Homo sapiens: one gene and its partners. The protein of the gene in region 4 interacts with the protein of the main gene of each other region in a pairwise test. Each region holds a gene or a part of one and is shown on either strand. Other genes may lie near its edges.

Evidence for each region.
Region 1: the proteins of SEMA4G (region 4) and CAMK2B interact in binary tests that used the Homo sapiens proteins (3 or more experiments, as listed by UniProt).
Region 2: the proteins of SEMA4G (region 4) and DEGS1 interact in binary tests that used the Homo sapiens proteins (3 or more experiments, as listed by UniProt).
Region 3: the proteins of SEMA4G (region 4) and PEX1 interact in binary tests that used the Homo sapiens proteins (3 or more experiments, as listed by UniProt).

The regions. Positions count from the first base shown.
Region 1 is NC_000007.14:44,224,578-44,231,600, reverse strand, and holds part of CAMK2B (calcium/calmodulin-dependent protein kinase type II subunit beta), read left to right. Parts: intron 1-546; coding exon 547-595; intron 596-2,099; coding exon 2,100-2,213; intron 2,214-2,676; coding exon 2,677-2,805; intron 2,806-4,956; coding exon 4,957-5,085; intron 5,086-5,709; coding exon of another isoform or gene 5,710-5,838; intron 5,839-6,287; coding exon of another isoform or gene 6,288-6,385; exon of another isoform or gene 6,386-6,416; intron 6,417-7,023. UniProt on the Homo sapiens protein: Calcium/calmodulin-dependent protein kinase that functions autonomously after Ca(2+)/calmodulin-binding and autophosphorylation, and is involved in dendritic spine and synapse formation, neuronal plasticity and regulation of sarcoplasmic reticulum Ca(2+) transport in skeletal muscle.
Region 2 is NC_000001.11:224,178,615-224,186,253, forward strand, and holds the start of DEGS1 (sphingolipid delta(4)-desaturase DES1), read left to right. Parts: upstream 1-4,625; 5' UTR 4,626-4,722; coding exon 4,723-4,804; intron 4,805-5,065; exon of another isoform or gene 5,066-5,217; intron 5,218-7,639. UniProt on the Homo sapiens protein: Has sphingolipid-delta-4-desaturase activity. Converts D-erythro-sphinganine to D-erythro-sphingosine (E-sphing-4-enine). Catalyzes the equilibrium isomerization of retinols.
Region 3 is NC_000007.14:92,511,501-92,518,523, reverse strand, and holds part of PEX1 (peroxisomal ATPase PEX1), read left to right. Parts: intron 1-268; coding exon 269-383; intron 384-481; coding exon 482-1,248; intron 1,249-4,556; coding exon 4,557-4,676; intron 4,677-6,820; coding exon 6,821-6,944; intron 6,945-7,023. UniProt on the Homo sapiens protein: Component of the PEX1-PEX6 AAA ATPase complex, a protein dislocase complex that mediates the ATP-dependent extraction of the PEX5 receptor from peroxisomal membranes, an essential step for PEX5 recycling.
Region 4 is NC_000010.11:100,979,486-100,986,121, reverse strand, and holds the end of SEMA4G (semaphorin-4G isoform 1 precursor), read right to left. Parts: intron 6,275-6,636; coding exon 6,130-6,274; intron 6,001-6,129; coding exon 5,778-6,000; intron 5,545-5,777; coding exon 5,429-5,544; intron 5,301-5,428; coding exon 5,125-5,300; intron 4,955-5,124; coding exon 4,893-4,954; intron 4,747-4,892; exon of another isoform or gene 4,660-4,746; coding exon of another isoform or gene 4,579-4,659; intron 2,818-4,578; coding exon 1,991-2,817; 3' UTR 1,633-1,990; coding exon of another isoform or gene 1,229-1,632; 3' UTR 506-1,228; downstream 1-505. Other genes in the region: MRPL43 (large ribosomal subunit protein mL43), read left to right, coding at 2,048-2,174, 2,305-2,367. UniProt on the Homo sapiens protein: Cell surface receptor for PLXNB2. May play a role in axon guidance.

The DNA of each region.
Region 1 (7,023 bases), on a different chromosome or scaffold from region 4:
GGGAACGCCTCACCCTGTATTTTGGATGACACCGGCTGCTGCTTCATTGGAACCAGCCAGTCCCATTGTGTTTTACGTCTTGGAATTTCAAAAAGCCCATTTTCCTCTCTTGTTAAAGAGTCAGCTGAGCATACCAGTCTCTCTGCCAGGCTCATCTTGCTGGGAGAAGTGGAGCCCTCATGTGTTGGGGATGCAGGGTGGCCACAGCACTAGGGTGGCAGGGCCGGCCTCGGACTCCGTGCCAGCCTGTGCTGGCTGCCGTGAGAATGCACCCTGGTGAGGGGCGCCCTCCCAGGGACCAGCACAGAACTGGGTGTCTTCTCCGGTCACTGCCGCATGAGGTCCACAGAGCTGGGGCCCTGCAGCCGCCAGAGGGCATGTCCCCTGAGCCCCTGGCCTTTAAGCCCCGTGGAAGCAGCCGAGGCAGAGATCAGCTTCAGAGCCTGGGCTGGTCCTGACACAGGCCCAGCCCTGTCCACCTGCCCTCAGCCACGTCCCACCTATCCTTGGCCGCATCCTGACCCGCTGCCTCCCGTGTTTCCTCAGGAGTCTTCTGACAGTGCCAATACCACCATAGAGGATGAAGACGCTAAAGGTACCTGCACTTGAGTCCTTGCCCCCCCAGCGGCCTTGGCATTGCTGGGTTGCTCTTTGAGGTGGGTGGGACTTGGGCAGGGTCAACTCTCCTGCGACGCCTAGTTTATGCATGTGTTGAGGGGCTCAGGGACCCTGTAGCTGTAATCCTGCTCCAAGCCTGGGTGTCAGGCCTGCCCAGAGCGGAGAAGCATGGCAGAGATGACCGACAGCTGGGCAGTCTCGGTCACCGCATCCAAGTGAGGAAGCCACGGCTTTGCATGGAGGCAGGTTCTCCACACCAGGACCCTCACGGGGAAACAGGCCCATGGGTAGAATTTGTTCCAAGATGCTGTCCTTGTCTTAAAGCTCCTTAAGCTTGCGTTTCTGTCCAGCATGCACTTGCCAAGTGGCCGGGCAGCTGGGTGAGTGTTTCCGTGTTTGCCTTTGCTTAGCCAGGAGTGTCCTGCTGCGGTGGGTTTCTGCACCACAGATTCCAGGGCCCCCTCCCTTGCTCACCCAGGCCAATGTCTTGTGTGTTCCCCAAGAGGCCCCCAGGGCACCAGGCACTGGGGCATGCTCCATGGATTCTGCCGCCTCCAGACCACCCACATGGGGCCTCCTGACCCTCATCGCTCACACGGTCACCTAATAAGCCTTATGCTGTTCTCAGGGCTACCCTGGTGCCCAAAAAGGGTCAGCCACTCTGCCAGTTTAGGGGAGAAAACTTCTCACCTGTCCAAAGCATAGCCTTGCTCCTGCCCGGCCTACCCAGCTATGACACTGTCCCTGAGCAGAGATGAGCACAGGACTTTGGGCCCTGGATGCCGGAGAGTGGGTGTTTGTGTGATTCCCCTGCAGTCTGGAACAGGCCCCAAAGGCAACAGCATGAAGGCTGTCCAGAGGTTCTCCATCACCCTCAGCCGAGTGGGGTGCTGAGCAGTGAGGGAGGGGACCTGGGAGGGGGGCCCAGCCTGGATCCTGCAGGGGAGAAGAGAAGACAGCCAGAAGCCAGCAGCTGTGGCTCAGATCTGAGCCCGAGCAGCCTCTCGAGGTGGAGGCAGACACCCCCCACCCCACCCCGTGCAGAAAGAAGCCTTGCCAGCCTGCCCTGAGGCTGGTACAGAGTCCAGGCAGGCTCAGTGGCCATCATGCCCCTACGATGACTGTCACTCCCTCTCCGTGCGCCTGGCCTCTGCTGGCTCTGGCCAGGGGTGGTCACAGCACTAGGGTGGCAGGGTGGCCTCTGACTCTGCGCCAGCCTGCACTGGCCTGTGCTGCCCTGGCCTCTGCTGGCTCTGGCTCTGGCACCGGTCCCGTGTTGGCTCCTTCAGCCTTCACATACCTGCTGCGGCCACCACAGGCCCAGGACCCCCACAGGTGGCCACCCCACCTCCACCCCAGGAGCCCCAGGTATCCAGCTGTCACCCCCTCCCTCCCTCCTGGCCTCCCCCTGTCCTTCTCCAGTTGCCTTCTTTTCCTGCGGGCGCACCACCCACCTGCCTGCCTCACCTGTTCCGCCTCAGCCCCCAGGGTCCCCGACATCCTGAGCTCAGTGAGGAGGGGCTCGGGAGCCCCAGAAGCCGAGGGGCCCCTGCCCTGCCCATCTCCGGCTCCCTTTAGCCCCCTGCCAGCCCCATGTAAGTAGCCTGGGTCCTGCTGCTGTGGGGGTCATGTTGGAGGGCTGGCAACCCCCTAGAGGGGCCACTCCAGAGCCGAGGGCAGGCTGAGCGTGGACCCTGGCTCCAGCCTCATCACCCCACAATCCCTCACTGGGGCTTTCCAGGGTGGCCCCAGCCCATCGAGCCCCACCTCTTTGTGAGGAGGGCCCTGGACCACTTTCCTGCTCAAGGCCACTGGGCAGGATGGGAGGCCCTGGAGGCTCGGGCCTCAATTCCAGTCTTCAGGGTCGGTGCAGGCCTCACTCCACCTCAGCTTGCGGGCGGGGGGGCTCCCTGCTATTGAGGCAGGCTCTGATTCAGGGCCTGATCCCAGGGCCCAAGGGGTCTAGAACACGGGACCCCTCCCACTGGCCTCCTCCGCCTTGCCGCCGCCTCGTGTGTCTGTCTGCCTCATGTTCACGTCTCATCTGTTCCACCCCAGCCCCCAGGATCTCTGACATCCTGAACTCTGTGAGAAGGGGTTCAGGAACCCCAGAAGCCGAGGGCCCCCTCTCAGCGGGGCCCCCGCCCTGCCTGTCTCCGGCTCTCCTAGGCCCCCTGTCCTCCCCGTGTAAGTAGTGGCCCCCAGGCCTGCCGCCTCTGCTGCCGGACAGCTCCCTGCGAATGGCCGGCGCTCAGCAGCTTCCCACCTGCATGCACGGCCCAGCTACCCTGCCCCGGCGCCGCAGCCTGGAGTCCTGCCCTGGCGGGGCTTCCTGTGGGCTCCCATGCTAACCAGCAGGGCAGCTCCTGGCTTCTCCCTAAGGGGCCCAGACCCCTCCACGGCTCCTGCTCCCACTGCCACTCCCCGCTCGCTGTCCAGCCCCAGGCCCCTCTCCAAAATGTCTGTCCCAGCCCTGGGCAGCCCTGGCCCCTCCGAGGCCCCCCATGCCCCTAGGCCCTCTCTGCTGATCACTGTCCCAGCCCCACAGACTTCACACCCACCCAGGGGCCCTGCCCATGGTGCCCAGGAGCTGCACTCAGGGCCACCCTGGTTCCTGATGTGGCCCCAACCCCTGAGCACCCTCCCTCAGTCTAGGAGGCTGAGGAAGGTGCCAAAACTGGAACCCCGACCAGGGTCTCTGGAGCTCACCAACAAGGGGATAGTACGGAGAATCATAAGCCTGGCCTCTGCTGACCTGGGCTGTCCTCATGGGGCCAGGCCAGGCCTCCTCTGTAACGCCCGTGACTCCCTCCTCTCCCTGTAACCCCGTCCAGCGTTCCTCAAGGGCCACTTACCTGACAGCTTCTTGCTGGCCAGCAGCCTCTCCCTGGAGGGTGCCCTCTGCCCCCAGCAGCTTCAGCCCACGCCACCCGACAGCCAGAGCATCTGCCCTTCACTCCTGCAGCCTCCTCTCCACGCACCACGCTGTCCGCAGCAGCACCCTCTGTCCCCCTGTCTCCCTCCGTCCCCCCATATCCCCCTCGGTCAGCCTACAACCTCTCCACGTCCCCCTAAGTCCACGCTCTATCCCTACATCCCCCTCTGTCCCCCAAATTCCCCTCTTTCCCTCATTTCCATTTTCCTCCCCAAACTCTGCTCTGCCCCTCACATTCTCCCTCTGTCCCCCACACCCTCCTCTGTCCCCCAGACTCTCCCTCTGTCCCCCACACCCTCCTCTGTCCCCCATATACCCCTCTGTCCCCCACACCCACCTTGGTCCCTTCACGCCCTTTTCTGTCCCCCACACCCCCTCTGTTCCCTACACTCTCCCTCTGTCCTCCAGACCCTCCTCTGTCCCCCACACTCCCTCTGTCCCCCACACCCCCTGTCCCCCACACTCTCCCTCTGCCCCCCAGACCCTCCTCTGTCCCCTACACTCCCTCTGTCCCCCATATCCCCCTCTGTCCCCCACACCCTCCTCTGTCCTCCACCCCCTGCCCCCCATACCCCCTTCTGTCCCCCACACTTCCTCTGTCTTCCACACCCCCTCCTGTCCCCCACACCCCCTCTGTCCCCCAGACTCTCCCTCTGTCCCCCACACTCCGTCTGTCCCCCACACCTCCTGTCTTCCACACCCCCTTCTGTCCCCCACACCCCCTCTGTCCCCCATACTCTCCTCTGTCCCCCACCTCCCCCTCTGTTCCCCACACCGCCTTCTGTCCCCCACACCCCCTCTGTCTTCCACTTCCCCTCTGTCCCCCACATCCCCCTCTGTCCCCTGCACCCTCCTCTGTCCCCTGCACCCTCCTCTGTCCCCTGCACCTCTCTCTGTCCCCCACATCCCCCTCTGTCCTCCACACTCCCTCTGTCCCCCACATCCACCTTGGTCCCCTCACGCACCCCCATCCCCCATGACCCCTTCTGTCCCCCACACCCCCTCTGTCTTCCACACCCCCCTCTGTCCCCCACACCCACCTTGGTCCCCTCATGCCCCCCATCCCCTACACCCCCACTTTGTCCCCCCACATGCCCCTCTGTCCCCCACGTTCCCTTCTGTCTCCCACGTCTCCTCCATTTCCCGTTTCCCTCTCTGTCCCCCAAGCTCCCCTCCATCCCCCACATCCCCTTCTTTCCCCTATATCCCCTCTGTCGGCCCAGGTCCACCATCTTCCCCCCACACCCCCCCATTCTCCCTTCCTCCCCTCTGTCCCCTTGTGCCCCATCCCCCACATCTGCCTCTGTGCCCCTCAATCTCTGGCTTGGCTGTCTGCCCATGGTTTCTCTCCTGCGTGCCCCCCGTGCCTGCCTTGTGTTCACGTCTCGTCTGTTCCGCCCCAGCCCCCAGGATCTCTGACATCCTGAACTCTGTGAGGAGGGGCTCAGGGACCCCAGAAGCCGAGGGCCCCTCGCCAGTGGGGCCCCCGCCCTGCCCATCTCCGACTATCCCTGGCCCCCTGCCCACCCCATGTAAGTAGCACCTTGAGTGGCCGTGGCAGCGGCTGCCCGGAGGGGCTCGGGGCGTGCGAGCCTGGCAGTGGTGCTCTGGGAAGGGCCATTCTTGCGGAGGAGGGCGGGGCACAGGATCCCTCTGCTGGGTCCCAGGGAATTGCTTTGAAGCACATGAAGGTGCCACTGGGTCTCAGAAAATGGAGGTTATGGTTATGAAGTGTGTATGACATATGTGTATAGGAAGAGCGTCCGAAAGAGCAGGTTTGTTGCCGACCCCAGCATTCGCAACCCTGAGGTCCACAGCTTTCTCCTGATGGGAGGGGAATGGGTGGCAAAGGGTCTGCGCGTGTGGCAAGGGCTAGCACGCCAGGAGCTGCTGGCTTGGGTCAAGGTGGACCTGCTGGGCCGGGACAGAAAAGTGTCAGTCCCGGCCTGAGACGCTCTAGCATTAGAGCTGTCCAAGTCCAGACAGCAGGGAGCAGGTGGGGATCGGGAGGCGCGGATCTGGGGGGCAGCTGGGGCCAGGCTGAAACAGAGCGGGCGGGACAGGAAGCACAGGCTGGGCAGCCTCCCCGGCCAGGGAGGAGCCAGGCTGGGCCACCTCCCGGTCTGTCTGCCGACTACCCGCAGTATCACTTACAGGGATGGATGACATCCCAGGGCTGCTGCCACCCCCACCTGTGGGGAGACACCAGACTGGGGGTGGTGTGGAGATACTCTTAGAGAAGAGGCTGCTGGGCCACGGGCTCGGCATGGCAGGGCAGTGGCTAGGTAAGTACTTGAGGGACAGGTGGGGTCTGCTTGCCACCGTCCCCTCTGCAGGCTGGGCCTGGGGGCTGCTGCAGGCGGCCAGGGCAGAAGGGTGTGGGGAGAGTGAACCCACAGGAGCAGCGGCTCGAGGAGGGGGATGCAGGCTGCAGGCTCAAAGGGGCACTGGATCCACCCTGGGTGCCCGAGAGAGCAGGGGGCAGCCCCTGGAGGGGTACTCACCCCCAGAGCTTCTGTGGTCGGCTGAGGACCCCCAGCAGGGGTTGACTGAGGGGATCAGAGGCAAGCAGCTGAGGGGAGAGGCCAGGTTCTTGATGCTGATAGGGTCGGGGTGCCTGGGCGACCAGAACTCAAGGAGGGAGGCATGGGGAGGGGCCGCCGTGCAGCTGGGGTGGGTGCACCGCAGAGCCTCTGGGAGTGGTCAGAACCCCCGACACCTGCCACTTCTACAGCAGCTCATCTGATTTTAAGGGGCTTGCTGCCCTTGCAGAAGTGGAGGGGTGTGCCCAAAGGAGCCTGCCTGGAAGGTCACCCCATCAGGTTGGCATGACCCCAGCCCAGGACTGCAGCCTGCCCTCAAGGTCTGTGCAGTATCTGGGGTGAGTCCTCTGAGGACAGGGCCCAGGGTGGGTGTGGAGTGGCCAGCTCGGGGCTCGGTGTCCAGGCTCACCTTCAGGGGCCACAGCACAGACCTGCCCTTCCAGAGTCTTCCCTGAGCTTGGCTGGGGAGGAGGGGGCTGCAGGAAGGAGCTGTGAGCAGGGCAGGATGGAGATTCGTGTGGCCCTCCTGGGAGGGGCTGGGCAGGGCTGGGAAAGGGGTGGGTGAGATGTTCCGGAACTCAGGGAAAGGAAGAGTCTGGGTACTGCCCTGGGGGCACCTGGGCCCAGGTGGCAGGTGGCCAGCTTTCTGCCTCCTTTCCACCTCCTTTCTCCAGAAGGCACCCACCAGCTGTGTAAATAGGGCAGGTGCCCACGGCCCGCCTCAGGCCCCGTCTCCTCCCCACCCACGCTCTCTAATCGCGGATTATACACAATCCAGCCTGATCCCTGGGCAGCTGCCCTCCCTCCCGCAGCCACCTCTGGCTCTGAGAGATGGGCTTGGGGCCAGCCTGGGGTCCCAGGAGTCCAGGCCAGGATGAGAACCTGCTCTGACCCCACCTGGACGCATTAGGCCTGCCTGGACCTGTT
Region 2 (7,639 bases), on a different chromosome or scaffold from region 4:
ATTAGCCAGGCGTGGTGACATGAATCTGTAATCCCAGCTACTCGGGAGGCTGAGGCAGGAGAATCACCAGAACTCAGGAGGCGGAGATTGCAGTGAGCCAAGATTGGGCCATTGTACTCCAGCCTGGGCGACAGAGCGAAACTCCATCTCAAAAATAAAATAAAAAGAAAAGAAAAGAAATAGATAACATAAAATTCTTACGATTATTTGCTTGAAGTGAATAAAGAATGTTTTCTGTATTACTCTTCTATGAATTACAGTAGTCAATACCATTCAATCTCAACTGTTATCACTATTGAAATGGCCTCAAAAATAAACTGCCCTTTCAAAAATCAAGCAGATGGAAAAGGAAAAATCCATATTGATTTCAAAAGTACAGCTGCCCTCATCTGAAAACTACTTCATCTTAAATTTCCTAATATGATCATGGCTGGCTGCGATTCACCACAGCTTCCAACAGCCGACTGGAGAGCGTTTTTCCAGAATAACTAGTATGTTTGCTTCAAGACAAATTATTTGACAAGGTTAAGGAAAAGATGTGAAAGCTAGATAATCCATTAAGAATCTTTTTTTAAAACTTCAAGGCATTTTATTTATACTTCTTTTTTTTTTTTTTGAGACAGTCTCGCTCTGTCGCCCAGGCTAGTGTGCAGTGGTGCAATCTCAGCTCACTGCAACCTCCGCCTCCCGGGTTCAAGCTGTTTTCTGCCTCAGCTTCCCAAGTAGCTGGGATTACAAGCACCCACCGCCATGCCCAGCTAATTTTTGTATTTTTAGTAGAGACGGGGTTTCACCATCTTGGCCAGGCTGGTCGTGAACTCCTGACCTTGTGATCCACCCACCTCGGCCTCCCAAAGTGCTGGAATTACAGGCGTGAGCCACCATGCCTGGCTATACTTCTTAGCTTACTTTTTTATTACGCGTATATATTAAGAACTTTTAAAAGTCCAAATTAAAGAAGCATGCCTAGACATCATTAAAATAGCTATCAATGCCCATGACAATCCTGTAGCTCAAATAGTTTACTTTAGAATGTCAAAATTGATTTTGTAATAGTCAGGACAGGATAAACAGTCGCTATATTAAGACCATGTACGTGTCCCTAGACCTAGTTCTTTCCCTACGTCTGTTTTTATAAATGCTGGTGATAAACCAGGTCTGATTAATATATAATCATTTTGTGTGATTATGTAACGGCTATAATTCTAGGTTATCTTTGGTCAACCTTAAGAAAAATGGCAGTATATGTAATGACTTTTGCAAATGATCAGTGCTAATTTGCAGACTTTTGTTTAAAGAGGGTTTAAACAAAATAAGAAAATTTCATGATTACCAGTTGCTATTAAATGAATTGTAACTTTTTTTAAAAAAAAAGAATGTCCAAGCCAGGTGTGGTGCTCATGCCTGTAATCCCAGCACTTTGGGAAGCCAAGAAGGGCAGATCACTTAAGGTCAGGAGTTCAAGACCAGCCTGGCCAACATGGTGAAACCCCGTCTCTAGTAAAAATACAAAAAGTTGCTGGACGTGGTGGCACACACCTGTAATCCCAGCTACTCGGGAGGGTGAGGCAGGAGAATCGCTTGAACCCAGGAGGCAGAGGTTGCAGTGAGCCAAGATCTTGACACTGCACTCCAGCCTGGGCAACAGAGCGCAACTCCATCTCAGAAAAAAAAAATGGTATATCCAGATTCACATTTTTTTTCAAACTCTGCATTTTTCTTTCTTTCTTTTATTTTTTAATGTTTTTGAGACAAAGCCTCACTCTGTCACACAGGCTAGAGTGCAGTGCCACAATCTCAGCTCATTTCTCAGCTCATTGAAGCCTCGACCTCCTGGGCTCAAGCAATCTTCCCACCTCAGCCTCAGCAATAGGTGGGACCACAAACATGGGCCACCACGCCCAGTTAAATTTTTTTTTTTTTTTTTTGAGACGGAGTCTTGCTCTGTCGCCCAGTCTGGAGTGCAGTGGTGCGATCTCGGCTCACTGCAAGCTCCGCCTCCCGGTTTCATGCCATTCTCCTTCCTCAGCCCCCCAAGTAGCTGGGGCTACAGGCGCCCCCCCCACCATGCCTGGCTAATTTTTTTTGTATTTTTAGTAGAGATGGGGTTTCACCGTGTTAGCCAGGATGGTCTGGATCTCCTGACCTTGGAGACCGCCTTGGCCTCCCAAAGTGCTGGGATTACAGGCATGAGCCACCATACCCGGCATAATTTTTGTATTTTTTATAGAGGTGGGTTTTTGCCATGTTGCCCAGGCTTGTCCCGAACCCCTGCCCTCAAGCGATCCCCCTACCTCGGCCTCCCAAAGTGCTCAGACTACAGACGTAAGCCTCCGCACACCTTTTGGACTGGTGTGCCAGTTCACACATGCCTGTGATAGCAACTGCGTTCTGAACTGCAGGGATACATTTACTTGTCAGCACCTGAAAACTTCCTCCTGAGTTGAGTCCAATTATCAGCTTCATGTGCCATCTGCCAATCCAGATGAAACTTGGCAAATACAAAGCTGTCCTTTTCCAGGTGACACTCCCCACCTTCTTTTTCCTCCACCATTTCATTAACAACTAAAAAGCTCCTGCATGATCAGACCTGTGTATCTATCCATCATCAAATCCCACTCCTTTTTCGAGACTGGGACCCTCTGGAGGCTGACCCAGCCACGCATTTGCTAGCATGCCCTGCAGACATGACCCTCGCTGGGCTCTGATCAGCCTTCAGGCCTCCACTCCAGGTGTCACTGTTCTGTCTCCCCTCTGCTCTCACAGCCTTCTCTGCTAGATGTCTCAGCCGTGCTGGCCCTCTCTATTTCAGAAGTGAATGTACTGAGAGGGTCTTAGGGACTTATTAATAATGCTCCTGGGGTCGGATGTAGTAGCTCATGCCTGTGATCCCAATACTTTGAGATCACTTGAGCCCAAGCGTTTGAGACCAGCCTGGGCAACAAGGTGAGGCCCCATCTCTATCAAAAATTCAAAAAAGTAGCCAAGCATGGTGGTGCACGCCTGTGATCCCAGCTCCTCGGGAGACTGGGGTGGGAGGATGGCTTAAGCTCAGGTCAAGACTGAAGTGAGACATGAGGCCACCACTGCACTCCAGCCTGGGCAACAGAGCAGGACTCTGTCTCAAAAAAAACAAAACCCACTATAACCATAATACTATTATCACACTTAAGAAATTCATAATTCCTTAATATCATCACATATCCAATTGATATCTGAGTTCAATTATTTCATGTCAATGTTTTTAAACTATTTCAATCAGAATCTAAATGAGGTCAACACGTTGCAATTGGTTGGTATGTCTTTTAAACTCCTTTTAATCTACAGGTTTCTCTTTTTTTGCCTTGAGTTTCATTTATTAGAGAACCCAGACATTGTCCCATATAGTCTCCCAGAGTTGGATCTTGCTAGTTTCATCCCCACGGCCTAGTTTAACACATTCCTCTGTCCTTTCTATTTTCTTTTTTTTTTCTTGAGAGGGAGTCTCCGTCTGTCCCCCAGGCTGGAGTGCAGTGGCTCCGTCTCAGCTCACTGCAACCTCTGCCTCCCAGTTCGAGCGATTCCCCTGCCTCAGCCTCCTGAGTAGCTGGGATTACAGGCGCCTGCCACTACGCCCAGCTAATTTTTTTATATTTTTAGTAGAGACGGGGGTTTCACCATCCTGATCAGGCTGGTCTCGAACTCCCGACCTCAGGTGATGGACCCGCCTCTGCCTCACAGAGTGCAAGGATTACAGACGTGAGCCACCGCACCCGGCCAAATGTCCTTTCTATTTTCTATAAATTAACAGTCAGATCTAGGGGCTCGATCAGATTTGTGTGTGTGTGTGTGCCGTGTGCGCGTGCACAGCATGTTCTTTGACTAGGAGGCACACCTGCTTTGGTTATCTTCTTTTTGTAATCTTTAAGTTGCTCTTTGATGTAGACGTGGTAACTAATGTTGAAACAAAATTAGTTTCGTTTCAAAACCTTTCTTTCAGGAAGAGGTTGTGGTTGATTACTTCTGCGACAGGTAGATGCAAGGTTGAGCAATCATCTCTTAACAGAAGTGGTCACACTAGAATAATTCAAGCACAACAACAAATCCCACATCATCACCCCCTCTTAATAATGGTGTTTTCTTTTTACTTGATTAGCTTTTAATTGTCACGCACTCTGCATTTTTTCCCTGAGGTATTATTTCCAGAAGGCAGCGAAATATGACTCAATGGCTAATTTGCTTTTTAAAAATTAAACAAAACTTAGGCCAGCTGCCATTTAAGAAGGGCTCCGGGGCCTCCAGACTCGGTGTGACCGTAGCCGTGCCCGGTGCTCCCCTCGCGGAGGCGTTAGGGCGGCAGGTTTATCTCACTTGAGACCATTCCTTCCTTTTTCATCTTCTCCGGGCTCCGGCGCAGCAGGCCGCAGGGGCGGGCACTCGCAAGAACGCGGCATCCTGGATGGTGGCCGAGTCACCGAAGCTCAGAACCCCGCGTCCCAGAATCGCTGAGAGCCGGCCCCGCACGGGGGCCTGGGAGCGCCACGCGCCCTCCACCCAGAGAGGCAGGCGGGCGGGCCGGGGGGGGCGGGGCCTCGGGACTCCGCCCACGCCTCCGTCTCCTCCGCGCTCCGCCACAGCCGGCCGACACCACACCAGCCGGGGAGCCGCCGCCGCCGCCGCCACCTCTGAGCAGCCGGCTGGGAGCGAGAGCCGACAGCTAGTCTGCAAGCCACCGCTGTCGCCATGGGGAGCCGCGTCTCGCGGGAAGACTTCGAGTGGGTCTACACCGACCAGCCGCACGCCGACCGGCGCCGGGAGATCCTGGGTGAGGGCCAGCGGGCGCCCCGTTATGTGCGTGCGTGGCCTCCCGGCGCCGGGGCGCGCTCTCCCCTCGCGGGCCCTGCGCGGTCGTGGGCGCCGGAGGCCCGTTAGCAGCCTGCTCCCCGTCGCGTCCCGTCGCCGCTCGGGCCGCCAGCCCGCGGGTCAGCGCGGGAGAGGCTGGGCGAGGAGCGGGGGGAGGGACGGGTCCTCGGAGCCGCGCAGCTCCGACCCTTCCGCGAAGAGGCGCAGGCGCGTCCCCGAGCGCGGGAGTCCCCGCCAGGCCCACGCCGGCCGGTTGGGGCGAAGGGTGTCCCCGGCTGTGCCAGCCTTGAGTAGATCTTTTCGCTAGAAGATTCCTGTGCCCTCAGGTGGGCGCCCTTTCCTCTCACCACTCCCTCTCCTCCGGAGCGGGCCGAGGTGAGCGGGTGCCGGCCTTGGGGCTGCCTGAGTGCTAGGCAGGGTGTGGTCCTGGGCATCCTTGGGCCTACCAGCGAGCCCTGCTCAGGGTGTCGGGCGCCGGCGGGCAGTACTGGCGGGGGCGGCCGCAGTCCCGGCCTTGGGCCCGTTAAGGGGGCCGGCGTCCCTCCATATGCCCCCCGGGGCTTCTCGGACTTGATGGGCCCTGGTCGGTTCACGCCGCTTGTCCCATTGATCCTCACGACAAGCCTGGGACGTAAGAACGGCGGATTCGTAGGCATTTTTCATCCATCTCGGTTTTGTGGATGAAAAGACTGAAAATGGAAGACTTGCCAAATAAGGAAAATATGTGGCGTGGCCTGCTGGTCCCCTGACAGCTAATTGAGAGGCCTTAACTCTCCAGAGGATTCGGGCCTTCTGTGTTACATAGAGAATGCTCATCTCTCCCAGGCTACTCCTAATATGCTAGGGATTGTGTGGAATGCTTTACAAACATTACCCAATTTCATCCTCTTGGTAATTCTACTTGGTTGGTATTATCGCTGTTTTAAAAAATGAAATAAGAACGCGTGACTAAATGCTAGGGGGATTCTAATGCGCATTCGGTTGCCTCTTCCAGAGCACGTGTTTGTTTTTTGTTTGTTTGTTTTTTGAGACTGCACGTGTTTGTTTTTTGTTTGTTTGTTTGTTTGTTTTTTGAGACTGAGTCTCACTCTGTTGCTCATGCTGGAGTGCAGTGGCGCGATCTCCACTCGCTGCAACCTCTGCCTCCTGGGTTCAAGCGATTCTTCTGTCTCAGCCTCCCGAGTAGCTGGGATTACAGGTTCCCACCACTACGCCTGGCTAATGTTTGTATCTTTTTTAGTTAGAGACGGGGTTTCACCATGTTGGCCAGGCTTATCTCGAACTCCTGACCTCAGGTGATCCGCCCGCCTTGGCCTCCCGAAGTTTTGGGATTACAGGCGTGAACCACCGTGCCCGGCCAGAGCACGAGCTTTTTAACCTCTGTTGAGGAAACGGGGACCGGTCACGGTAGCTCAGGCCTGTAATCCTAGCACTTCGGGAGGCTGAGGCGGGAGGATCGCTTCAGCCCAGAAGTTTGAGACCATCCTGAGTAACATAGTGAGAGCCCCCCGTTTACACACACACACACACACACACACACACACACACACTTTTTTTAAATTGAGGAAACGGTGAGTTGAACATGAGCAATTATTCCTTATATATAGTATTTCCTTAGTTTTTCTTCTCAACATTCATTTGCCCAGTGAAAAGAAAAAGCAAGTAGCTGGGACCACAAGCGCACACCACCATGCCTGGTTGATTTTTCTATTTTTTGTAGAGATGGGTTTCTCCGTGTTGCCCAGGCTGGTCTTGAACTCCTGGGCTCAAGCAATCTGTCCGCTTTGGCCTCCCAAAGTGCTGGGATTTTAAAGGCGTAAGCCACTGCACCCGGTAACTTTGGGTTCTTGAATTCCCTTCCTCCTCTTCTTCCTCCTCCCCTACACTCCATTAGAGAAAGGGTCTTGCTTTGTTGCCCAAGCTGGAGTGCGGTGGTTGTTCACAGGCATGATGATCACTGCAGCCTGGGCTCCAGTGGTCCGCATACCTCAGCCTGCCAGTAGCAATTTGTTTGGCACATCACTTACACATACTTGATATGAGATAGCATGATACTTTTTTGAGACGGAGCCGCACTCTGTCACCCAGGCTGGAGTGCAGTGGCCCAGTCTCGGCTCACTGCAACCTCTCCCTCCTGGGTTCAAGCAGTTCTGCCTGCCCCAGTCTCCCGAGTACCTGGGATTACAGACGCCCGCCACCATACCTGGCTAAGTTTTTCTATTTTTATTTTTAGTAGAGACAGGGTTTTGCCACATTGGCCAGGCTGGTCTCAGATGATGCGCCTGCCATGGCCTCCCAAAGTCCTGGGATTACAGGCGTGAGCCACCCTGCCAGGCCACATATGATATATTTTATCAATGCCTTATCTACATGTTACATAGGAATAATCTAGCGTCCTACCTGTGTAAAAACCAACTCTGGAATACTGAAACTGAGCTACTTAATATTCTGAAAATCAGGACGGGTGTGGTGGCTTTTTTTTGCCTGTAATCCGAGCACTTTGAGAAGCTGAGGCAAGAAGATCGCTTGAGGCCAGTTCAGAACAGCCCCATCTGCACGAGAAATTAAAAAATTAGCTAGGCGTGCATGCCTGTCCCGCTACTCAGAAGGCTGAGGCGAGAGGAACACTTGAACTCAGGAGTTCGAGGCCAACCTGGGCAACATGGCAAAACCCCATCTCTACCAAAAAAAAAAAAATTTAATTAGCGGGACATGGTGGCATGTGCCTGTGGTCCCAGCTACACAGAAGGCTGAGGTGGGAGGATTGCTTGAGCTGGGGAGGTAGAGGCTGCAGTGA
Region 3 (7,023 bases), on a different chromosome or scaffold from region 4:
TGTATTGGGGATTCATGTTAAATGAGTAGATTTTAACTACTCTTACCACAAAAACACAAAAGTGGGTAACTGTGAGATGATGTATATGTTAATTTACTTCACTATAGTAACCATTATACTATCTATATGTAGCTCATAACACCATGTCGTGTATATTAAATATGCACATTAAAATTTGTTTTTTAAAAAAAGAATTGAGATTTTTTTTAACTAGATATGGAGTGGACAAAATGTAAAGTGAATTGATCTTTTCGTCTGTTGGTTCTAGGAGCTGCATGCTGTTTCCCTTGAACAACATCTTCTAGATCAAATTCGAATAGTTTTTCCAAAAGCCATTTTTCCTGTTTGGGTTGATCAACAAACGTACATATTTATCCAAATTGGTAGGTGCTATTGTAATATTTGCTGTCATATTCTACACTATAGCATTGAGTCCAAAGTAGAAATGAATGTGCACTAATGAGCTTTATTTTCTACACAGTTGCACTAATACCAGCTGCCTCTTATGGAAGGCTGGAAACTGACACCAAACTCCTTATTCAGCCAAAGACACGCCGAGCCAAAGAGAATACATTTTCAAAAGCTGATGCTGAATATAAAAAACTTCATAGTTATGGAAGAGACCAGAAAGGAATGATGAAAGAACTTCAAACCAAGCAACTTCAGTCAAATACTGTGGGAATCACTGAATCTAATGAAAACGAGTCAGAGATTCCAGTTGACTCATCATCAGTAGCAAGTTTATGGACTATGATAGGAAGCATTTTTTCCTTTCAATCTGAGAAGAAACAAGAGACATCTTGGGGTTTAACTGAAATCAATGCATTCAAAAATATGCAGTCAAAGGTTGTTCCTCTAGACAATATTTTCAGAGTATGCAAATCTCAACCTCCTAGTATATATAACGCGTCAGCAACCTCTGTTTTTCATAAACACTGTGCCATTCATGTATTTCCATGGGACCAGGAATATTTTGATGTAGAGCCCAGCTTTACTGTGACATATGGAAAGCTAGTTAAGCTACTTTCTCCAAAGCAACAGCAAAGTAAAACAAAACAAAATGTGTTATCACCTGAAAAAGAGAAGCAGATGTCAGAGCCACTAGATCAAAAAAAAATTAGGTCAGATCATAATGAAGAAGATGAGAAGGCCTGTGTGCTACAAGTAGTCTGGAATGGACTTGAAGAATTGAACAATGCCATCAAATATACCAAAAATGTAGAAGTTCTCCATCTTGGGAAAGTCTGGGTTAGTATAAATTTTATAACTTGGGAGAAATTTTATGTGGCTTAAACATCCCCAAATTATGAATTAGAATAGTATTTCATATATAAATTGAAAATCAATTAAAAAGAAACACAGTGCCTAAAGGCACTTGGGGGACACATTTACGCTTTGCAGTAAAGTCCTTGTTTGGATAAAGATTGTATGTTTTCTGGCCAAGTAAGCTTGAATAGGTACAAGCTTAGATAGGTTCAGGCCAGAGAGGTCAAAATTACTTGCCTGAGATTGCATAGCTAGTGTTACAACTAGGATTCAAACCCAGGCAGATTGACTTGGGGGTTCATCAGGATGGAGTGCCCTACAAAGCCTCCCATCTTTAATGCTTGCAGATTTGTTCCCCAGTTACCGAAAGCAACTTGTTAATATTAGGGAAAAGGGCCAGTGTAGGGAGAGATCCATGGCATGAGGTAACCTTCCTGCTGCATGTGGTGGCACCTGGATTGGAATGCATCCAGGAGCTGCTTACCCTGCCGGTGTCTGCTCTTTAATTTGTGTATAACGGAGAGGAAGTAGACAGGGCAACTAGTGCTCCAGCCCCTCATCCTGGCCACAAATATTAATGCTACCTTTATATGACATAAGTCACTAGTCCATTTATTGGAACCTAAATTTGAACCACTGTAAAGTAAGACTTCATAGTGATAAAGAGAGGAACTTGTTAGGAAAGAGAATAAAATAGAAAGAGAAGGTTGTCTCCTTTTGTAGATTTTTTTTTTTTCTCCAACAGTTTTACCTGTGACCTTTATACAAATAACTGACAAAGCATTAATCTCTTTGGCCTACATCATTTTCTTTTCTATTTTTTTTTTCCACAAGATGGAGTTTCACTCTTCTTGCCCAAGCTGGAGTGCAGTGGCATGATCTGGCTCACTGCAACCTCCGCCTCCCACGTTCAAGTGGTTCTCCTGCCTCAGCCTCCTGAGTAGCTGGGACTACAGGCATGCACCACCACGCCTGGCTAATTTTTTGTATTTTTAGTAGAAACTGGGTTTCACCATGTTAGCCAGCCTGGTCTGGAACTCCTGACCTCAGGTGATCTGCCTGCCTCGGCCTCCCAAAGTGCTGGGATTACAGGCATGAGCCACTGCTCCTGGCCGGCCTACATCATTTTCTAAAGCTCCAGACCATTCTTTTCTTTTCTTTTCTTTTCTTTTCTTTTCTTTTCTTTTCTTTTCTTTTCTTTTTTCTCTTCTCTTCTCTTCTCTTCTCTTCTCTTCTCTTCTCTTCTCTTTTCTTTTCTTTTTTTGAGTTAGAAGCTTGCTTTGTTGCCCAGGCTGGAGTGCAGTGGCACCACCTCCACTCACTACAACCTCCACCTCCCAGGTTCAAATGATTCTCCTGCCTCAGCCTTCAGAGTAGCTGGGACTACAAGTGTGCGCCACCACTCCTGGCTAATTTTTGTATTTTTAGTAGGGACGAGGTTTCACCATGTTGGCCAGGCTAGTCTTGAACTCCTGGTCTCAAGTGATCCGCCTGCCTCAGTCTCCCAAGGTGCTGGGATTACAGGCGTGAGCCACTGTGCCTGGCCTCAGATCATTATTTTCTGTTAGCTTTAAACTGTCCGTTCAGGAGATCCCACTGCATCCTCAAATTCAAAATATCTAACACTGAGCTTATGATTTAGCTGGTTCTGTCATTAGATGGGAATATCCTTTTATTTCCTTGAAATTATATGGTGAGAACAGGGAGAAGTGCTGATGGTAAAGTCCTGTGATTAAGATAGCAATAAGGACTCCGCCCTTCCCACTCCACTGAAGGTTGAAGAGCCATGGACAATGAGAAGTCACAGTAGGTGAAATCAGGTACTAAAATGGACTTGGCTTGAGAGATCAAAATTGATCACTTGGTGATACAACTAACAAATTCATGTTAACTTGAACCTTTATTACCCTGTGAAGCATGGTGATTAAAAAAAAACAACAAACAAACAGGAAACTTGATTGTTAAATTCTCTTTAAGTCAGAATATGTACCTTAGAGTTTTTATTTATGCTTTTGTCTACCATTAATATGTCTGCACCTGCTCTTTAGAAGTTAATAGAGAGTAAAGTCGTCTTTATGTCTTTCAGTGCTTACTTATATTTGGGAAGTTGAGAAAAATTTTTAACATCATTATTGATATATATATATATATATATATATATATATATATATATATATATATATATATATAGATAATTTTTTTTTTTTTCTTGAGACGGAGTCTCACTCTGTCGCCCAGGCCGGAGTGTGGTGGCGATCTCCACTCAATGCAAGCTCTGCCTCCCAGGTTCAAGCGATTCTCTTGCCTCAGCCTCCCGAGTAGCTAGGATACAGGCTCCCACCACCACGCCTGGCTAATTTTTGTAGTTTTAGTAGAGACGAGGTTTCACCATATTGGCCACGCTGGTCTCAAACTCCTGACCTTGTGATCCGCCCACCTCGGCCTCCCAAAGTGCTGGGATTACAGGCGTGAGCCACTGCGCCCGGCTGAGGTAAAATTTAAAGTGTACAATTCAGTCATTTTTAGTATATTTATACTAGTTGTACAGCCATCACCACAATCTAAGTTTAGAACATTTTCATTAGGGGGTGGGAGAAATTTTACTCTGCTTTTTAGATTAAGTTTCTGTCTGGATCTAATCATTTAATCAGACAATCAGGCAGATTGTCTGTGATTAGTTTTGGCCATTCCAGCTTCTTCATTGGTTGTTAACTTTCACAAATAAAGGCTGCTCAAAGATTAGAAATAACATTTAATTTGAATGTAAATGTGCCATAGTTTAAAAGATGGGTTTGGTGAATACAGTCAAATACATACATTTAAAGCTCTAATTCTGAAGATTATGTAAAGAAAAGGAAAGAAATGTAGGGAGAGGATTGAAATGTTCATGGTATAACAATATCTGAACATCCATCTGGTCACACCGTTGGTATTTGAATGTTTTGTCCTCCTCAAATTCATATGTCGAAATCCCAACTCCCAAGGTGATCGTATTAGGAGGTGTGGTCTTTGGGAAGTGATTAGGTCATGAAGGTGAAGCCTTCATGAATGGGATTCGTGCTCTTATAAAAGAGAACTGTGAGAAATAAGTTTCTGTCGTTTGTTAGCCACCCAGTTTAGGATATTTTGATATAGCAGCCTGCATGGACTGAGACAACTATGAGTTATTATGATAGCTTCTGTTATTTCACCTAAATTCATAGAAGCTAATATATCAATATTTATGCTATGAAATATTTCTTAACCAAGCTTTGAATATATTTATATTTTTGTTTATTTTTAAATTTCAGATTCCAGATGACCTGAGGAAGAGACTAAATATAGAAATGCATGCCGTAGTCAGGATAACTCCAGTGGAAGTTACCCCTAAAATTCCAAGATCTCTAAAGTTACAACCTAGAGAGAATTTAGTGAGTTCAAATATATATGTTACATCAAAATTCTTTTACACGTTTTGTAAGATTTCTAGTTGCTTTAGCTAAGTAATAAGAATGTTGTATTCCTTTTTGATACAAATCTTTTTTTATTGTGTTAAACTATATATAACATAAAATATGCCATGTTCGCCATTTTTAAGTGTATAATTCAAAGGCATTAATTACATTCATAATATTGTACAACCATCACCACTATCTATATCCAGAACTTTTCCATCACCCCAAAGAGAAACTTGGTACCCATTAAACAATAATTCCCCGTCCACTCCTTTCCCCAGTCCCTGGTAATCTCTAATGTATATTGTGTCTCTATGAATTTACTTATTCTAGATATTTCATATATAAGTAGAAGTATGCATTTGTCTTATGTATCTGACTTATTTCATTTAACATAATGTTTTCAAGGCTCATCTGTGTTGTATGTATCAGAATGTTATTCCTTTTCATGGCTGAATACTATTCCATTGACTGCATATACCACATTTGTTTATCCATTCATCTGTTGATGGACACTTGGGTTGTTTCCACATTTTTGGCTGCTGTGAATAATGCTACAGTGAACATTGGTGTACAAGTATCTGTTTGAGTTCCTCTTTTCAGCTCCTTTGGGATATACCTAGGAATTATGTTTAACTTTTTGAGAAGCTGAGAAATCTTTAATAAATGATAACACAAATACTTATATTTGCCAATGCAAATATGAATATTTTTGGCTTTTAAGAGATTGATCATTTTGCCACGTGGTTGTAATTAAAAAAAATTGTCCCATGTTGTTTCAGTATTAATATTGTAGCCTAAAAGAGTGCTAGACTGTTTTACTTTTTACTCAGTTAATTCTTTGGATACTGGTAGAGTCAGGAAATGAGATATTGAACTTAAAGATCTTTGCAGGTGGGGTCCAGTGGCTCACACCTGTAATCCTAGCACTTTGGGAAGCTGAGGTGGGAGGATTGCTTGAGGCCAAGAGTTTGAGAATAGCCTGGGCAACATAGCAAGACCCCATCTCTACAAAAAAATTAAAAAAAAAATTAAGCCAGGCGTGGTAGCTCACGCCTGTTATCCCAACACTTCGGGAGGCTGAGATGGGTGGATCACTTGAGGTCAGGAGTTGGAGACCAGCCTGGCCAACATGGTGAAACCCCATCTCTACTAAAAATACCAAAATTATCGGGGCGTGGTGCTAATCCTGTAATCTCAGCTACTCAGGAGGCTGAGGCAGGAGAACCACTTGAACTGAGGAGGTGGAAGTTGCAGTGAGCCTAGATCTCACCACTGCACTCCAGCCTGGGTAACAGAGCGAGACTCTATTTCAAAAAAAGTAAAAATAAAAATTAGACACATGTGGTGGCACATGCCTGTAGTCCTAGCTACTCAGGAGGCTGACTGAAGTGGGAGGATCTCTTGAGCCCAGGAGTTCCACACTGCAGTGAGCTATGATTGTGCCACTGCACTCCAGCCTAGGCAATATCTCAAAAAAAATTTTTTTAAATAGATTATTAGGCCAGACGTGGTGGCTCATGCCAGTAATCCCAGCACTTTGGAAGGCCAAGGCAGGCGGATCACCTGAGGCCAGGAGTTTGAGACCAGCCTGGCCAACATGGTGAAACCCCATGTCTACCAAAAATACAAAAATTAGCTGCAATGTCTATAATCCCAGCTACTTGGGAGCCTGAGGCAAGCGAATCGCTTGAACCCGGGAGGCAGAGGTTGCAGTGAGTGGAGACTGCGCCACTGCACTCCAGCCTGGGCGATACAGCGAGATTCTGTCTCAAAGAAAAAGGAATTTGTTTTCCTGTCTTTATCGTAGAGGGAGGAAAGGGAGAATGGGGTTGGAATGGTTATTGAGTGAGCCACATTATGGTAGATGTATCACTGGGCATAGAGAAAAGGAGCATTTAAAACTTTTCCGCCTAACAGATGTTTCTTCAGGCTACACTGCACTCATTGTGCTAACTGTAATGTCAAATCCCAGACCTGTGCCTATAGAACATGAACATCCTTCATTGGATTTGTTTGGTCAGGCTTACACTTTATTAGGAAGATCAGATGTTAAAATAAGGGTGTTAAAGTTAAGTTCAGATATGAGGATAATTCATTACTATTCCTTTTTCTGGCAGCCTAAAGACATAAGTGAAGAAGACATAAAAACTGTATTTTATTCATGGCTACAGCAGTCTACTACCACCATGCTTCCTTTGGTAATATCAGAGGAAGAATTTATTAAGCTGGAAACTAAAGATGGTGAGTACATTTGTTATTTTGACTTTTTTTTCTATTTAAATAGTTGTACATTTTTAATTGTTCTTGCAACCTGTCATAC
Region 4 (6,636 bases):
GGAGTGATTCTCAGACCAAGTCCTGGCTGACAAGCTTTCTCTGGTCTTAGCTATACATCTCCTTCCCCCCACGTCCCTCTTTGTGCAGAAATAAAATCCATGTCCCTTGAGCCAGCTGGTGGGGGGTGCTGAGAACCTTGGGGAAGGGCAGGAAGGCTGATATTAATGAGTATTTTCTAATCTTAGTTTAAAAAGGGGGGATGGTGGGGAAATGAGAGGCAGGAAATGAAAATCTAGAAACCCCTGTAAGAATTCTTGAACTGTTGTCATTTTCTTGTCATGCCCTAACACCATGATCAATGAATAGTGTGAACCTTACTAAAGAGGCCTGTGTGCCTGCCAAGGAGTCAGGATGGAAGCGGAGGATCCCAATTTCCTCTGCAAATAGTTGTATTGGGGAGCAGAGCCAATCCTGGAGGCAGATATCACCTTCTGTATAGGCTCAGGAGCCTGTCCCCTGGTGATCAGGGGTGGGCGCATCTAGATGAAGCAGACTAGTCATAGCTGTGGGGAAAAAGGGTGTTTATTAACCAACGGCAGGGGGAGGAGCTGAGCCCAGGCTCCCCACTCTGTCACATGCCTGTTCCACCCACCTGGTTGTAAGTGGGGGCATTCCTAAAGAAGTGTAGCCATTCTCACAATAAATACATTCATTGTGGGGTGGAGGTGGGAGAGGTTGGGTGAAGGGCAGTAAAAACCCGTGGGATTCCACGTTCTCAGCTACAAAAATAACAGTCATCCTCACCCGAGGGGAATGGGGGAGCTCAGTCAGAATTGATTGTCCCATATAGGCCTAGAGACTTCAGAGGCCCCTGGCCCCTGAAAGTGCCCCGGTGAGGTAGGACAGGGGTAGGAGCTAAGCGTCCAAACTCCCAGCCTCTGCCCTTTGCATAGTTCCAAGAATGGGCTTCATGTGCCAGTTGAGACATCAGATTTCTCCTCCCTTTCCCTGCTGTAGTCTAGAGGAAGCAAATGCTTGATTCCCCCAAAAGAGAGGCTGGCTCATTGAGTGCAGTGTTGGTCATCCATCCTAGGCAAGGGCCTGTGAGGACAGTTAAATGGGAGGGGGATCTCCCTCTGAAATGTCCACGGACTAAACCCAACAGACAGGTCCAAGACAGCAAGGGAGGCTCAGAGGTGCATGTGAGTGGAAATGTAAGCACATGTGTGATACAGGTGTGTGTTACCACATGTGCATGGGGATGGGACATGCCTGGAGCTCTGTCTCTCATACTCTTGAGAATGACCAAGGAGAGTGGGGAGGCTGATTCACAAGGGCCACACAGGAAGGGAGAGGAGGGGAGTGATGCAGTCTTACCTCCCCAGGCTGGCCCGTTCCCAAGCTCTTGACAAAGAGGTCACCACATGGGGCTGGGGAAGAGGACCAGATAGGATGTGGCAATTGGGAGGGTACCCCAAGTCCAGAAGCAGGGATGAAACAAGAATGCACCAGGAGAAGGTGAGGGTGGGGGCACTGCAGCCCAGCCGATAAACATTCTTCCATGTGTGCATGTGAATGTACGCAGGGCTTAGGTGGCTGGCAGAGGTCTTGTCTGGTTTCAGGACCATCCAGCACACAGGGCCATGCAGAGGGTGGTGACATTGAGCCCATATGGACCTGCAGAGCCCTGCCTGGGAGAAAGAGAAAGGGTTTGGGCAGATGAATGGAACAGGAGGATGGAGTCCTCACCTATAAGTGTTTAGGTTAGGGGATAGGAACTGGCTCTGGGTCTGCAGGGCACCTGATCCTGAGGGAGCACCTACCTCTGAGGAGCACCGATGGGCCTGGGCTGCTCACATGTGGGTCTGTGGAGACTGAGGAGGGGGCTTTGGCTGGGCCTGACTGGCCAGCCCTACAGGGACATCAAAAAGTTGGGAGAAGGGTATGGAGTGGGGGTAATGAAGGGAGGGTGGCTGTGTTAGGGAGGCAGTGGCCCAGCCTGGGACAGATAGGCTGGCTTGGAAGAGCATTTGTTCTGGGAGGCTGGGCTCAGACAGAGCTCTCATCTAGCTGCTCCACGAGCTGCGTGTGCTTCCTTTTTTCCAGGATGCGGCTGAGTTCCTCGGCGAAGGAGCAGGGCCCTGCTGGTACTCCATTGTTGCTCTGCCTCAGAAGCACATAGCTATTGCCATTCATCCTCCGCAGCCGGCTGGGCAGTGCCACCAAGCCATTGGTCAGCTCAGCCGGTGGCGGTGGGGGCGGTGGGGGTGGTGGGGCTGGGGCTCCCTCCCCAGGGATGATCTGGAGACAGCTGCCCTCCAGGCCCCCAGCCCCCTCATCATCACCCTCATCTTCCTCTCCAGGACACTGGCCTGAGACTGTCTGCAGTTGCACCGCAGATCCTCCTGCCCGGCTGGCCCGACCCAGTGAGTATTTCCGTCGGCGCCCTCGTCTGCCTTCCCGCAGACAGGCCACATAGAGGAGGGAGGAGGCCAGGATGAGGCAGAGGCCACCAAGCGCGGCAATGGCTAGCACATAGAGCAGTCTCACATCAGGTGCCAGCTGTGCCCCAGGTGTGGCAGGGGCTTTTGGAGCTGGGGCAGGAGTGGCTGGCCGGACTGTGAGACTATAGGAGGCCAGCAGGGTGCGGAGGCCATTTTCCTCGGCATAGCAGCCATAGTTGCCACTGTGCTCAGGCTGTGCATCTGTAACCAGCAGCCCGTCCACGCCCACACGGTAGCCACCCTGCCCATCGCTCAGGCCCATGCTCCCATTGAGTAGCCACAAGGCCCGGGCCAGGTTGGATGGCTGGTCACAGGGCAGGAGGACATCATCACCCCGGAGCACAGAGCGGGTCTTCAGTGGTGGTGGTGGCCCTGTGGGGTTTGGGGGAGAGGTCAGTACCAGCCCGTCCCAGGAAGGGATTAGAGATGGCAAGCCAGACTGTTCACTGCCAAGTCCCTGGCACCAAGCACAGAACCCAGAATCACAGTGACAGCTGACCCAGGCTCTGTGCTCATGCTTCCACAGAAGGTTCACGTTGGCCCTTCCCAGGAAGCAGGCAGTGCCTTGGGCCCTTTTCCATTCTCTCTCCATGCTCTCATCCTCTCCTGTGGTTTCAATTTCTGCCATCTGCCAGTAACTCCTAATCTCTACCTCAGACTTCTCTCCTGAGTGCCAGACTCGGATATCTACCATGTGCTGGGCATCTCCACATGAGGTCTCTTGGACACCTCAAAACCAAAGCTTTTCTCCCCAACGACACCAAGTCCTTTCCTTGAATCGCCACCACTGTGAATGGCACCACCAGCCACACAGTTGCTTAAGTCAGAAACCTGGGAGTCTCCCTTCTCTTTCTTGCTCGCCTTTTTGTTTTGTTTTGTTTTTTTGAGACGGAGTCTCATTCTGTCGCCTAGGCTGGAGTGCAGTGACGTGATCTCAGCTCACTGCAACCTCCACCTCCCTGGTTCACGCGATTATCTTGCCTCTGGCTCCTGAGTAGCTGGGATTACAGGCATATGCCACCATGCCCAGCTAGTTTTTGTATTTTTAGTAGAGACAGGGTTTCACCATGTTGGCCAGGCTTGTCTCGAACTCCTGACCTCAAGTGATCCACTCGCCTTGGCCTCCCAAAGTGCTGGATTATAGGCATGAGCCACCGTGCCCGGCCCTTCTTCACGTTTGTATCTAACTGTCACTAAGATTCTGTTTCTGGCATCTATCTTAGACCTGTTGATTTCTCTCCTTCCATGACTCCTGGCCCACTCTGGCCCCATGTAATCCATTCTTCATGAGAGGTATTTTAAAAACACAAATCTGATCATGCCACTCTCCAGCCTAAAACTCTTCAGAGGTTTCCTATTGCTTTTCGGATAAAGACCAAAATCTTCAACATGGCCTTTGCCCACTTGTCCAGCCTATTCTCCTGTCACTCAAATGTGCCAGCCTCCCTCTGCCTGCTGCTCCCTCTGCTTGCATGTCACCCCATTACCCCATGTCCTCTGCTTGCCTGGCTAACTTGTGGGAGATAGCATAGTATAGTGACCAGAAGCACAAAGTCAAATCAGACTGCTTGGGGTCAGGTTTGAATTCTTTTTTCTTTCTTTTTTTTTTTTTTTGAGATGAGATGAGGTCTCACTCTGTTATCCAGGCTGGAGTGCAATGGTGTGATCTTGGCTCACTGCAACCTCTGCCTCCCAGGCTCAAGTGATCCTCCCACCTCAGCTTTCCAAGTAGCTGGGATTACAGACATGTGCCACCACACCCGGCTAATTTTTGTATTTTTTGTAGAGATGGGGTTTTGCCATGTTGCCCAGGCTGGTCTCCAATTCCTGAGCTCAAGCAATCCACCTACCTCAGCCTCCCGAAGTGCTGGGATTACAGGCGTGAGCCACTGTACTCAGCCAGGTTTGAATTCTGGTCCAGTTTCTTAATAGCTGAATAAGTTTGAGCAATTTACTTACACTCCCTGGGCTTCAGAGAGGTCCCTCATGGGGATAATAATAATGGCACCTTTCTCATAAGAATGCTGTGACAGTAGATGACATCATGCATAGAAGTATTTAGATCAGTGTCTGGCACACAGTAAATACTTAATACATCTTAGCTGTGATGATTAACTTTTGTTCTTTCTTCAGATATCAGTTCAGTCATCCGATCTTCCTTGGGGAAATACCCATTACCGTCCTGAACCCTTGTCATCCACTACTTGGCTATAAGCTCCAGAAGTGACAAGACACTTCACATCTTAAATATGTTTCCTAGTTTATAATTCATTTGGGCAGTAAATGTTTGTTGAGCACTTACTCTGTGCCAGGCTCTGTGTTTGAGTCATCCTTACCAAATGTACATAGCCACAGCCACTCAGATACAAACATATACGTACACATGGCAGTAAATGGCAAAGAGGACAGTCTGCGTAGCTAGACCCACACTCATATGAGTCACTTACCTGTATCCCTGCTGCTCTCACAGCCTCGATTTCCTCTCTCTATGTCCTGTATCAGTGCTGTCCTGGGACAGAAGATCAGGTTTTATGAACAAGGGGAACTGGGTTTCAGTTTCCCAGTGAAAGGGTAGATAGGTCTGTTACTAATAACTAGCCCCTGCACTCCCCCAGTAGCTATCAGGCCTTCCTCCTCCACTCAGACCACATGTGACTGTCACCCCCCACCACTTCCCACCTGCTTCCCTGGGACCTGTTGGCTATGGTGGTGGCTGCTGCGCAGGCATGGGTGCCAGGGTCCCAGCCACAGTAGGGGTCTCGGGCCAAGATGCAGTCATAGCAGGATCGGTAGCGGGAGCAGCTGGAGAGTGGTAGCTGGATGACTCCGCTAGGAGCCCCCACATAGAGGCTGTGCTGGGAGCCAGATAGGACAGTTGGTCGGCAGCGTCCCCACTCATACAGATACACAGCCTCTGCCCAACCTCCCCACTCCCTCTTCCTATTTCAGCAAGGCTATATTAAGGGTCACAGAGAAGGGCTACCTGCAATAGAGAGATGACTAGATTTTCCACAGACTGGGACTCCCTGAACACTTGTGTCTCTTCAATAATGTGCATCCCAGAGCCCAGGACTACGGCCTTGTGGATCCAGCCATCAGCTGGTATGGAAAGAGCAGAGAGTTAGACCCCAACTATGGGATCTGCTCTCAGCACCCTGCAAGAGGCCTAATACGAACAGCTCAGGAGTCCTGAGGTCCAGAACAAGGACTCAGCCAGGAGCAGTGGACCCTCAGGACACTGGGAACTCCAGACTAGTCATGGCAGGAATTAATGGATTCAGAAGCATTAGTGATCAGGGCCAACAGGGATCAGGGATTGGGATCAGAAGCACCTGTGCCCAGAAAGAGCAGGTCATAGGTAGGTCCAGCAGGCGTGGTGACAGGTGTCCCTGTAAGGTGTGTGTAGCGTATGTTGCGCTTGAGCAGCAGGGGCCGTCCACGTGTGGGCACAACGGGCCGAGCCATCAGTGGGTGCAACTTTACAAAGTCCAGGACCAGGGATGGCAAGTCTTGGGATGAATTGTAGCCTTGGCTGCGCAATGAATCTGTGATACACTGGCGTGGGGGACGAAGGTGGTGAACCTCGGGACTCCACCACCTGCCTGCCCTCTCCACAAGGCCAGACCCTTTGACCCTTCCCTGGGCTCTGTCTACTCAGCACTGGCCCCAGGCCTGGGCACTCACCGAGCCAGGCCGGGGCTCAGGCACCCCACCCTCATAGCGACCCCAGCGCCGGGAACCATCCTGGTATTCCATATAGGGTCCTGCAAAGACAGCCTGGATCTCTGCCAGGTCATAGCGGCAGATGGCTGAGGCCTCCAGGGTCTTCCTAGAATGGGACATAGGGCAAGGGGGGTGAGTTACATGGAGTCAAGCCTGCCCCCCAACTCGTGCTCAGCCTGAAGCTCACTGTTACCCTGGCCAACCCCAGCTATAGTCCCACAGGGCCTCTCCTGTGAGTCAGTGGACCACTGCATTCATTCTCTGGCTCTAGCCTAGCTTGATGTGCTTAAAATTCTCACTTTGCCAGCACTTTGAGAGGCCGAGGCGAGCAGATCACGAGGTCAAGAGATCGAGACCATCCTGGGCAACACAGTGAAACCCCATCTCTATTAAAAATACAAAAATTAGCCAGGCGTGGTGGCACACGCCTATAGTCCCAGCTACTCGGGAGGCCGAGGCAGGATAATC